Linked DNA regions of Homo sapiens: region 1 is linked to region 2. Evidence: fine-mapped expression QTL. A gene starts in region 2. The other region holds a variant in brackets. All regions are shown on one strand. Distances are between the middles of the regions. Region 1 holds the start of PTDSS2 (phosphatidylserine synthase 2). Region 2 holds the start of RNH1 (ribonuclease/angiogenin inhibitor 1).

The links.
Region 1: its variant is fine-mapped to the expression of RNH1 in cerebellar hemisphere (GTEx, PIP 0.97).

What each region holds. Positions count from the first base shown.
Region 1 is chr11:449,389-454,748 of GRCh38, forward strand. PTDSS2 (phosphatidylserine synthase 2) reads left to right here and starts at 891. Exons shown (of 12, transcript NM_030783.3): 1 at 891-1,249. The coding sequence starts at 1,068. RefSeq lists enhancers at 391-1,077, 676-955 and silencers at 986-1,225, 1,416-1,475, 1,486-1,575. The variant C/G (reference allele first, on the strand shown) is at 2,488.
Region 2 is chr11:505,057-510,416 of GRCh38, forward strand. It overlaps RNH1 (ribonuclease/angiogenin inhibitor 1), which reads right to left and starts at 2,186. Exons shown (of 11, transcript NM_203387.3): 1 at 2,057-2,186. It also overlaps a transcript of LRRC56 not described here. RefSeq lists an enhancer at 1,455-1,624 and a cis regulatory region at 1,540.

The DNA.
Region 1 (5,360 bases), 56 kb before region 2:
GGTCCAGCTGTGCTGTAGCATGCGCATGCTTCGCTCCTCTATGGCTAATAACATGCCGCTATTATCAAAATGCTGCAACTAGGAGCGCTAGTGTGTAAATTTGGCGTGGACACTTGTTTCCAGGTTTGAGGAGCTGCCACATTGCTTTTCAGAGTGGCTCAGGAGCTAATTTTTTTGCAGGGTACCATGTCAACAATTTGGGTCAACTAAAATCAGCGTGTCCGCACCATTTTCGCCCGCCCAATTTCACGCGATCCTGCGAAAGAATGACCCAGACCGGTCCGGGCGCGGTGGCTCGCGCCTGTAATCCCAGCACTTTGGGAGGCCGAGGCGGCAGATCACAAGGTCAGGAGTTCGAGATTGGCCTGGCCAACATAGTGAAACCCCGTCTCTACTAAAAATACAAAAATTAGCCGGGCGTGATGGCGGCCGCCTGTAATCCCAGCTACTCGGGAAGCTTGAGACAGAAGAATCGTTTGAATCCGAGAGGCGGAGGTTGCAGTGAGCCGGGATCGCGCCATTGCACTCCAGCTCGGGCGGCAGTGCGAGACTCCGTCTCAAAAAGGAATGACCCGGGTCGCATGGGGTGAAGGGTCGGGAAGCGCCCCAAAAGGAGAACGGGGCTGGGCTCCGGGATCCGTCGGCGAGGAAGGGGCGAAGGGGTGGAGGGACTCGGGCCAGGCCGCCGGGGATGTCTGTGGTTACCTCCAAGCTCTGGAGGCCTTGGCGAGACCCGCGCCATCCGCAGCTTGGTTCCTGCGACCTCAGCCGCAGGGCGGTCCGGCTCCGGTTTCCCAGCAACCAGGCGTCATCCTTCCCAGCAAGCACTGCGTCCAACCCGCGACGTCGGACCACAAGGCCCAGCATGCCCCGCGCGGACTACAAGCCCCACAATGCACCGCACACCCTTTACTGGCCGGCCCCGCGCTGCTCTCCTAAGACCCCGCGGGCCAGCGCCGCGACCCCTTCCCAGCGCTCCTCGCGCTGTGTGCGGCGCGTCCTCTCGCCGGTGACCCGGTGTGCGTGGGGTCGAGGCGCCGGGCGGAGTGGCTCCGGGCCGAAACGCCATGCGGAGGGGCGAGCGCAGGGACGCCGGAGGTCCGCGGCCCGAGTCCCCGGTGCCCGCGGGCAGGGCCTCGCTGGAGGAGCCGCCTGACGGGCCGTCTGCCGGCCAAGCCACCGGGCCGGGCGAGGGCCGCCGCAGCACCGAGTCCGAGGTCTACGACGACGGCACCAACACCTTCTTCTGGTGAGGGCAGTGGGCGGCCGCGGGGCGGCGAGGGTGCCCTCGACCTGGGGGTTCCGGCACCGCTGGCCTGGGGGTCCCCGGCAGCGCCCTCTCGCCGTCTTGGAGTCCAGGACTGTGGCCGGGGGTTTGAGGGTGTGGCAGCACCGCCCCCCGGGTCCCGGGGAGCGGCCGGACCGAGCTCCCGACGCCGGGTCGGGCGGAGGGCGGCGCTGTAGGTGGGGGAGACCCTGGGCAGACCCTCCCTGCGGCCGCTTTGCGTCTCTCTCGCCGCCCTCCCCACCCCTGCCCGCCTTGGCTCTGACCGCGCGGTTCTGCGATCCAGACCCCTTCCCCGCCACCCGCCTCCAGCGTCACCCCAGAAACGCTTTCTCTGTCCTGCTGTCGAAGCTTCACCTGTGTCCCCCGTCATTCTGCCTGTGGTTGCTCCTCAGTGCTTGCGGCTGCACGAAATCATCTTGTGTGTCGCGCCCGACCCCACGTGGCGATCGTGTTGATTAGCAGAGTGTTGTGCGTGCTTCAGGAATGTAGTCGGTGTTCGTCGAATCCAGGCTCTGTTTCTCTCCTCAGTTGCCCCTAGCGGGGCCAGCGCCTCCTCCCTGCACAACTCAGCCCTAGCTACACCTTGGGGTCCCCCTGTCCGCCACTCTGCCTTTAATGGGGGTGGAAAAGGAAGAGGCCCCCGGGAGCAGCTGGAGTGTGGCACTCTGTGTCCAGACAGGCTCCAGGTGCCGCTCCTACTCCCGACAGCTGCGACCCTGGGCTGGCCCTTTGCCGATGCTCCTCTGTGAGAAGGATCAAGCCGTCGACCTGAAAGCAGGCTTCGTGAGAGGAGGGTTTGGCTCTTCTTGACTGCAAGGTGCCCAGTTCCCATCCTGTGGAAGGCCCGGGGGCACAGGGGCAGTAGAGGTGGGGTCAGCCCCAGGAAAACGTGTGGGAGACAGGCGCCTGCGGCCAGCAGTGGAAGGAAGGCTTTATGGACGCTTCCAAGAGAACCATGCTGTGGGATGGTCGGAGAGCAAATCTGAGGGGCGAGGAGGGCCTGATGGAGGAGTAAGGGACTTGTCAGGGGAAGGCGCCACCACAGACAGGGACTTAACCGGTCCTGGCCTGTCACCGCAGCCGAAGCTCTGGAGAGAGACTGTCCAAGTGGTGGGAAAGCAGGTTAGGGTGGAGGAGGCCCCACGCAGGGTCTTCCGTGAGGTGTGGGCAGCTGCTGTTGCAGGGAGGGCATCCGAGCT[C/G]TCCTTTGGGGAGATGAGTGTACCGGGTGGCTGCGGGGCCCTCGGGAGGGAGAGGAGATGGGGTGCCTGCCACGTGGACCCTCTGGCTTCCGGGCCCTGTGGACATCAGGCCTCTCCATCAGGTGCCCTGCCACACCCCTTCAGGCTGTCCTCCCGCAGCACAGCTGGGGACCACCGGAGTCTCTGAGGTCCTGGAGCAAGGAGACCAGACTGGCTCTTCTGAGGTCCCGGAGCAAGAAGACCAGACGGGCTCCTCTGACATCCCGGAGCAAGGAGAACAGACGGGCTCCTCTGAGGTCCCGGAGCGAGGAGACCAGACTGGCTCTTCTTGTTTCTCATTTGGCCGTTCAGCACATTGTGGGGACCCCTACTGCCTGTCAGTTACCGTTCTACGGGACATAGCAGAGAACTAAACAAGAAGCTTAGATTCTGGTGCAGGCATGGAACTTCAGAAGGCTCAAAATGTGCTGGCTGGGTGCTGAGTGTGGCAGGAGCCAGGGGGCACATGCAAGCCTGCGCAGCCCACCCAGTACCAGGGAAGCAGGAGCAGCAGCCCAAAGGTAGGAGGGGGCCGGTCTCTTTAGAAGCCCAGACCAGTGGTCCCTGCCCACAAGGGGTGTTTGGGACACAGACGGCTGGGCGCAGCAGAGCTTGCCTGTCAGGAGGCCAAGGGGGTCAGGAGGGCTCTCCAGGAGCGGGTGCAGCGGGGCTGGCTGGTCCAGGTACCTCCTTCCTGGGTCTTCTGGGTGGGTGGCTCTGGCTCTGGCTTTCCCCTCGACCCTGTCCCTGTAGAGACGCATGGGGCAGGTTCTTGCTGTGCCTCCTCCCTTCCCTGTGCAGAGGAAGGAGCTTCACGCTTCTGGGTGGCAGGTAACTCAATGCCTGCCTGGTGAGAATTCATTACCTGCAGAGCCTCACACTGACCTCCTGAGTCCACCTGCACTGACTTGCTGTGCTGGCATTTTTTTAACTCTAATTTTGTGTTTTAGAGAGTTTTACTTTTTATTTTTTATTCATTTTTATTTATTTATTTATTTTTAATAGAGGGTCCCCCTGTGTTGCCCAGGCTGGTCTTCAACTCCTGGCCTCAAGTGATCCTTCCGCCTCAGCCTCCCAGATTGCTGAGATTACAGGCATGCACCACCACATCCAGCCAGGGCGTTCATTTTCAAGGATGGGTGCACTTCCTCGGGCCAGTGACGGCGGCCATGTGTGAATTTTGTTTCTCTGTGACTGCTTGTCAGCCATAGGGATAGGGCGTGCGGTTCGATTCAGGGCTTGACTGGCCCTGGGAGCACGAGGCTGAGCTCTCCTTCTCTGGATTCATTCAGGGTAGCAAGGACAATTATGGGGAACATCCAGAGGAAAACGTTTAGATCCACAGACTCCGAGAAGCCCTGTGCGAAGATGTGGCAGCTCATGCGGTCTGGAAATTGTTTGGGAGAACACTTGGGGACCCCTTACCCTGGCGAGGTGCCTGTGAACGTTGCCGCCTGTCTGTGGGAGACGCTGAAGCAGCTTCGGATGACCACACTTGCTAACCAGTTCCCGAGCTGGGGGCCACTGTGATGTTCTGAGAGTTTTTATTGTATGCTTGTGTCTTGGAATGGGGTGCCTCAAATGAGCCTTCTCAGTGACCTGAGGACTTTATGTGTGAGGTGACCTCTGACCTTCAGATACCCCAGGTTTCTGGAAGATGCCTTTCTCCATCATCCTGGATCGGGGCTTTCCCAGCTTTGCCTACACCTGGGAGGCGCGAGTAGCCAGATGAAGTCTTTCTGGTCTTGCTGGTCAGAGCCAGAAGGGCCAGTGCCCGGTCCAGGAGCCTCTCGCAGGCCTTGGGCTGCCCATCCAGGCGTGGCCTTTCCTTGGCCCTTTGGACGACGACGCCGCGTTTTCCTCTTGGTCTCGGCCTCCCTGCCCACCATGAGAGTGGACATGAGAGTGACCATCTCCAAGGAGGCAGCTGGGTCTTTTCCACTCCCCATGGCAGGGAGCCAGCTGTCTTCACGCCCTCACCCTAGTGAAGTGGCTGAATTGCCAGGATTGATCACAGCTCTGTTCTGTGTCTGATCACAGGACATACACCGTCCTGCAGAGTCTGCAGGCGGGTGGGAGGAGCCATTGAACAGACCTGGCGTCCTGGGAGGGACACGGAATTCTTCCCTTGAGAGTCTCATGCTATCTTGAGCGGCACTCTGTCACTTCCAAGATGTGTAGACGTCGTGCTGCGTGTAGGACAAGGACTGGAGCTCACTAATACGGACCTTACTTTCCAGGAGCGTTGGATTTGAGCAGCTCTGAGATGTGTCCTCCTGCAGGGCTGCTGTGCCTGGTGCCCTTTCTCTGGGTCCCTTACCCTCTGCCTCCCTTCCTGTTGGGTCCTCTTCATTCCCATTTCTGCTTCCCCAGGGCCAGGAGGGTGCTGGGCACTCGGTGGCCACCTCAATGACAGTGTGCACATTTACCTGAAGGGGCGAAGGGTTACCTTTATATTTCAGGTAATCTCTGTGTTTTGGGGAAATGGAAAGATGGTGTTGGGTTAGGGTTGATCAATGATCAGCGTTTCCCTGGGCTACACAAGGAGTGAGTGTTGGGTTGGTGGCCACTTTAGAAACCACAGGAAGGTCTCTGTCGTGGAAAGTCGTATTAAAGGAGTCAAGTTTTACGCCTGTAATCCCAGCACTTTGGGAGGCCGAGGCAGGTGGATCACGAGGTCAGGAGTTTAAGACCAGCCTGGCCAATATGGTGAAACCCGGTCTCTACTAAAAATACAAAAATTAGCTGGGTGTGGTGGCGGGCGCCTGTAATCCCAGCTGCTTGGGAGGCTGAGGCAGGAGAATCGCTTGAACCTGGGAGGCAGAGATCGCGCC
Region 2 (5,360 bases):
CAAACCAATGGATATCTTAAATGTATTTCATTAATGCCTCATGTCTCTCTAAAACATGTAAAACCAAACTGCCCCAACCACCTTGGGCACATGTTCCCAGGATCCCCTGAGGGCTGTGTCACCGGCCGCGGTCACTCATATTCGATTCAGAATAAATCCCTTCAAATATTTTACATTTTAACTATTCTTATCGACAGTACATTTTTTAAAATAAGAATGGCCCTGAAAGATGTCCACCTCCTAATCTCCAAACCTGTGGTGTTACCTTAAGTGGCAAAAGGGACTTTGCAAATATTAAGAATATTGAGATGTGAAGGCTACCCTGGGGTGTCTGGGCGGCCGGCATATAATCATGAGAGTTCTTATGCAGAGACAGTAGGTTTTGAAGATGGAAGAAGGTGGCCTCTAGAAGTTGGAAGAGGAAAAGAAGCAGATTCTCCTTGGGAAACTCCAGAAGGAACTACCCTTGCCAACACCTTGATTTTAACCTCCTAAAACTCACTTCGGGCTTCTGAGCTCCAGGCCTATAAAACAGCCTGTGACAAATTCGTTATAGCAGGGATGAGAAAATAGCTCACTGCAGCCTCCTCTTCCAGGGCTCAAGTGCTCCTCCTCCCTCAGCGTCCCAAGTAGCTGGGACTACAAGCGTTCACTACCGCAACTGGCTAATTTTTTCTATCTTTTGTAGAGACGGGGGTCTCACTATTTTGGCCAAACTCAGTATGTTGGTCGCAAACTCCTGGGCTCAAGAGATCCGCCCGCCTCGGCCTCCCAAAGTGCTGGGATTACAGGCTGCAGCGCACCCAGCCTAATGTAACTTTTTTTTTTTTTTTTTTTTTTTGAGAAGGAGTTTCGCTCTTGTCAGCCGGCTGGAGTGCAGTGGCACGATCTCGGCTCACCGCAACCTCCGCCTCCTGAGTTCAAGCCATTCTCCTACCTCAACCTCCCAAGTAGCTGGGATTATAGGCGCCTGCCACCACGCCCGGCTAATTTTGTATTTTTAGTAGAGACGGGTTTTCACCATGTTGGCCAGGCTGTTCTCGAACTCCTGACCTCAGGTGATCCGCCTGCCTCTGACTGCCCGGCCCAGTGTAACTGTTAACGGCAACATCGTGTGCAGTCTCCGGCTTGCATTCGGTTTAGTCAGCCAATCGCTAAGACGACACTTGAGACCGTTTTCAGATCTTTAGGCTTTCCACCATCCTAGAAGGGGGCCTGCCTGGTTCTAAGGCCCTTCTGAAACACTGCCAAACTGTCCTCGGGAAACGGTGCAGAAGTCCTCTGGTTTCCCCCAAGGCGCGTGGGCACCTTGGCTGGAACCTCGCCCAGTAACACGACGTGCCTGGGGCCCCTTCGTCATTTCCGCCAACCCCGGTGACAACCCTGACACCGGCCCCTAAGTGCCATTCCAGTTATGTTGCTCTCCTCCCCGCAGCCCCAGGCGGCAGCTTCGCGGCCCGGCGTCCGGTCCCCCGGTGGTCCCGGAGCGAAGCTCCGCAATGGAGAGCGGAGGACCCTCCCTCCCCGACCTCGCACGACCAAGACCGCCCACCTTTCCCCCAACGCCCGGCTGTGGGAGCCGTTCGAGTCTTCTCCGCCAGGGCGCTCCTTCCCGGGAGGCCGCTTCTTTGGGGGAATAAGGTCAAGGATTACGGGATTTGGGGAAGCAAGCTCGGCTGGGCCAGGATTGCTTGCGTAGCTCGCTGGAATCTAAGGCACTAGAGGGCTTGACGGCCACGTGAGGACGAACCACGCAGGCGCAGCCCCGCGCCCCGGGCAAGGACTTCCGGCAAGCCCCAAAGGGGAGCGTGCACCGCGATGACGTCCTCAAGGCGCGCCACGTCCGCCCGGCGGCGCAGCTGCCCAGCGCAACCTCGGCCCCGCCTCGATAGCCCCGGACCCCTGCCCCGCCCGACCCCGCCCCGCCACGGGAGCGCGCCACTCGCCCGCGCAGCAACGGCCTCAATAGCGCCAGGCCCGCGTCTACAAGAAGCCCGACCAAGGCCGGCGTGGGCGAGGCCTGGCTAGACGCTGACGCACCGCTGGAGCTACTGACCTCGGGACGACTGGCGGACGGTCGCGGGCCTGGAGACCCAGAGCGAGACGGCCTACTTCGTTCTCGAGCCAGCAGAACGGGTTGAACGTGTCGACAACCCCACCCGCCAGTCAGCGGCGCGGGCGTGTTCGAGCCGGCTCGTGGGCGTGGTCAGGTGCGTGGGCGGGGACTACTGGGCGGGGCTCGGCGCGGGGGCGGGGCCTGGCGGGAGTAGTCTCGGGGTCGGGGCGGGGCCCGGCGGGCGGGGCTCGGCTAAGCACAGTCTTGGCGCAGCGGCGGGGCCTGGTGGGGCGTGGCTCGGTGAGGGAGGTCTCGCTTGGGGGCGTGGTCTCCCCCAGTAGGCGGGGCTTGGTGCCGGGGGCGGGGTCTGGCGGGCGCGGGCGCGTGTGCGTGTTGTGGGCCTCGCACTGGCACGCAAGTCTCAGCAATTCCTGAGAATCCTCGGAGGAAGAGGCCGGGGCCCGGTGCGGCAGCGCCTTGGGGGCGGAATCGCAGGCGCGGGTCGGGCCTTGCTGGGGCGCGGGGCGCGGCCCCCGGAGAAAGCGGCCGCCTCGGGACAGGAGGGACCCGGGAGAAACCCCCCTGGGGCGGCTCCGCATGTCGGGGTCGCGACTCTAGGCGACCTTGGTAGAGGGGCTCGTTTGCGCCGAGCTCGCGACCCCCGAGGGAGCCACGGCCCCGTGAACCACGCTGCCCGTCCTGGCCACTGGCTGCCGCCTTTGTTTCGTGGGACCCCAGCCCGCAAGGCCTGCGGAGCCGCGGCCTCGTCCCGAGTGTTCTGAGCGCGGTCCGAGCTGCTCCTGCGTCCACTCTGCTGCCGACACCCGAGCGTCGCCTGGAGCCCTGGCACTGAGGGGCGCAGGCCGAGTTCCAGACCAGCCTGGGAAACGCAAAGCGACCCCACCTCCACAAAAGTGGGTTTTCTTTAAGTTTTTGACTAGTCCGCAATTCACAGAATTGACATTTTGGCAGATGAAGATTGCAAGTAAGGAAACTAACGGTATCTCAGATTTGTTCTTTAGCAATTTGCTAAACCTCTCCTCTGACTGCCTTTATTAGGTATTTGTTTTCGAGACAGGGTCTCACTCCACTGCTTAGGCTGTACTGCAGTGGCGCGATCCCAGCTCGCTGCAGCCTCCACCTCCCGGACTCCAGTGATCCTCCCGCCTCAGCCTCCCAAGTAGCTGGTACCACAGGCGCCAGCACGCCTGGCTAATTGTTGTATTTTATGTAGAGAAGAGGTCTCCCTGTGTTGCCCAGCCTGGTCTTGAATTGGGCTCAAGTGATCCTCCTGCTTCAGCCTCCCATATCGCTGGAATTACTGGCATAAGCCACTACACCCGGCCTGATCATCTTTAAAGAAGGTGGTTCTGGCCGGGCGTGGTGGCTCACACCTGTAACCCCAACACTTTGGGAGACCGAGAAGGGTGGATCACCTGAGGTCAGGAGTTCAAGACCAGCCTGGCCAACGTGGTGAAACCCCATCTCTACTAAAAATACAAAAATTAGCCAGGCATGGTGGTGGGCACCTGTAATTCCAGCTACTTGGGAGGCTGAGGCAGGAGAATCGCTTGAACACGGGAAGCAGAGGTTGCAGCGAGCCTAGACCACACCATTGCACTCCAGTTCGGGCAACAAGATGAAACTCTGGCTGGGCGCGGTGGCTCACACCTGTAATTCCAACACTTTGGGAGGCCAAGGCAGGCAGATCACCTGAGGTCAGGAGTTCAAGACCAGCCTGGCCAAGATGATGAAACCCCATCTCTACTAAAATTACAAAAACTTAGCCAGGCATGGTGGTGCATGCCTGTAATCCCAGCTACTCAGGAGGCTGAGGCAGGAGAACCACTTGAACCCAGGAGGCAGAGGTTGCAGTGAGCCAAGATCGTGCCACTGTACTCCAGCCTGGGCAACAAGAGCGAAACTCCATCTCAAAAAAGAAAAAAGAAACTCCGTCTCAAAAAGAAGGTGGTTCACACACACACACACACACCCCCAAGAAAGCTCAGGGCTGGAAGGCAGCCAACCTGGCTGTGACCCTCATCCTGCACACGTGAGCTTGGTGACCAGTAGCTGATTCTTTAACTCTCTAAGCTTTGGAGTCTGGATGTGAGGTTTAGAATTCATGACAAGAAGCTGGAAGGATGCCGCCAGTCTGACTCCTGGACTGGTTCTCTTGACATCTTTGCAAAAGCTGCTGAAATGTTCTGGTTTCATTTCATTCTTTTCTTTGCCATGATCTCTTAGATTTGTTCGTGGCAATTCTCATAAGAGTGAAGAAAATGTTTAAAATGGCTGTTGGGCTCCCTTTTGTGACACCTTGTGGGGAAGGTGCCCAGGTATGTATAGGTGCTGAGCGCACGGCCAGCATGGTGTCTGTGGCCGGGCCTCCCTCCTGGACAGTGCGGCCACAGCCCCTGAAAGGTATGTCTTCATTTTTATTTTATTTTATTGAGATGGAGTCTCGCTCTGTCGCCCAGGCTGGAGTGCAGTGGCGCGATCTCGGCTCACTGTAAGCTCCGCCTCCCAGGTTCAAGCCATTCTCCTGCCTCAGCCTCCCGAGTAGCTGGGACTACAGGCACCTGCCACCACGCCCGGCTAATTTTTTTTTTTTTTTTTTTTTTGTAATTTTAATAGAGACAGGGTTTCAGCGTGTTAGCCAGGATGGTCTCGAGCTCCTGACCTTGTGATTCGCCCGCCTCAACCTCCCAAAGTGCCTGGCCTTCATTTTTATTTTTGAACTTACCTGCCTCACCTCGTTATGTCTTTATCTTATTTTTAAACTTACTCAGTTCACCCACTGTGGAATTGGGAGTATATGGAAGTATTCCCACCCCCAGTTTTATATACCGCCCCAGAGCTGACCATTCTCGCTCATTTCCCCGGGTCCTGGCCGACTCGAGTGTGCCTTTCCTTCCGATCCTGCTCCACACAGATCTGAGGGATGCTGCCCTTTCCTTCTCCACCTGCCCCTCCCTCACATCCAGCCCCACCAGCCTACACGTTAGCTTAAATAGGGAGCTTTTACATTCCCCATGAAAGGGAATCCAGGGACAGGCTGAGGCAAGAGACCCCCAGTGTTCATGAGATGCCATCTAGAGAAAACACCGTGGTGCTGAAGGCCTAAGTCAGACCCCGGGGAGAGAGGCACCAGGGTGACTTTGGGTGGAGAGTCCTGTGCCTGTTCTACTTCTATAAATATACTCAGGTCAGGCACGGTGGCTCACGCCTGTAATCCCAGCACGTTGGGAGGCCGAGGCAGGCGGATCATTTGAGGTCAGGAGTTCAAGACTAGCCTGGCCAA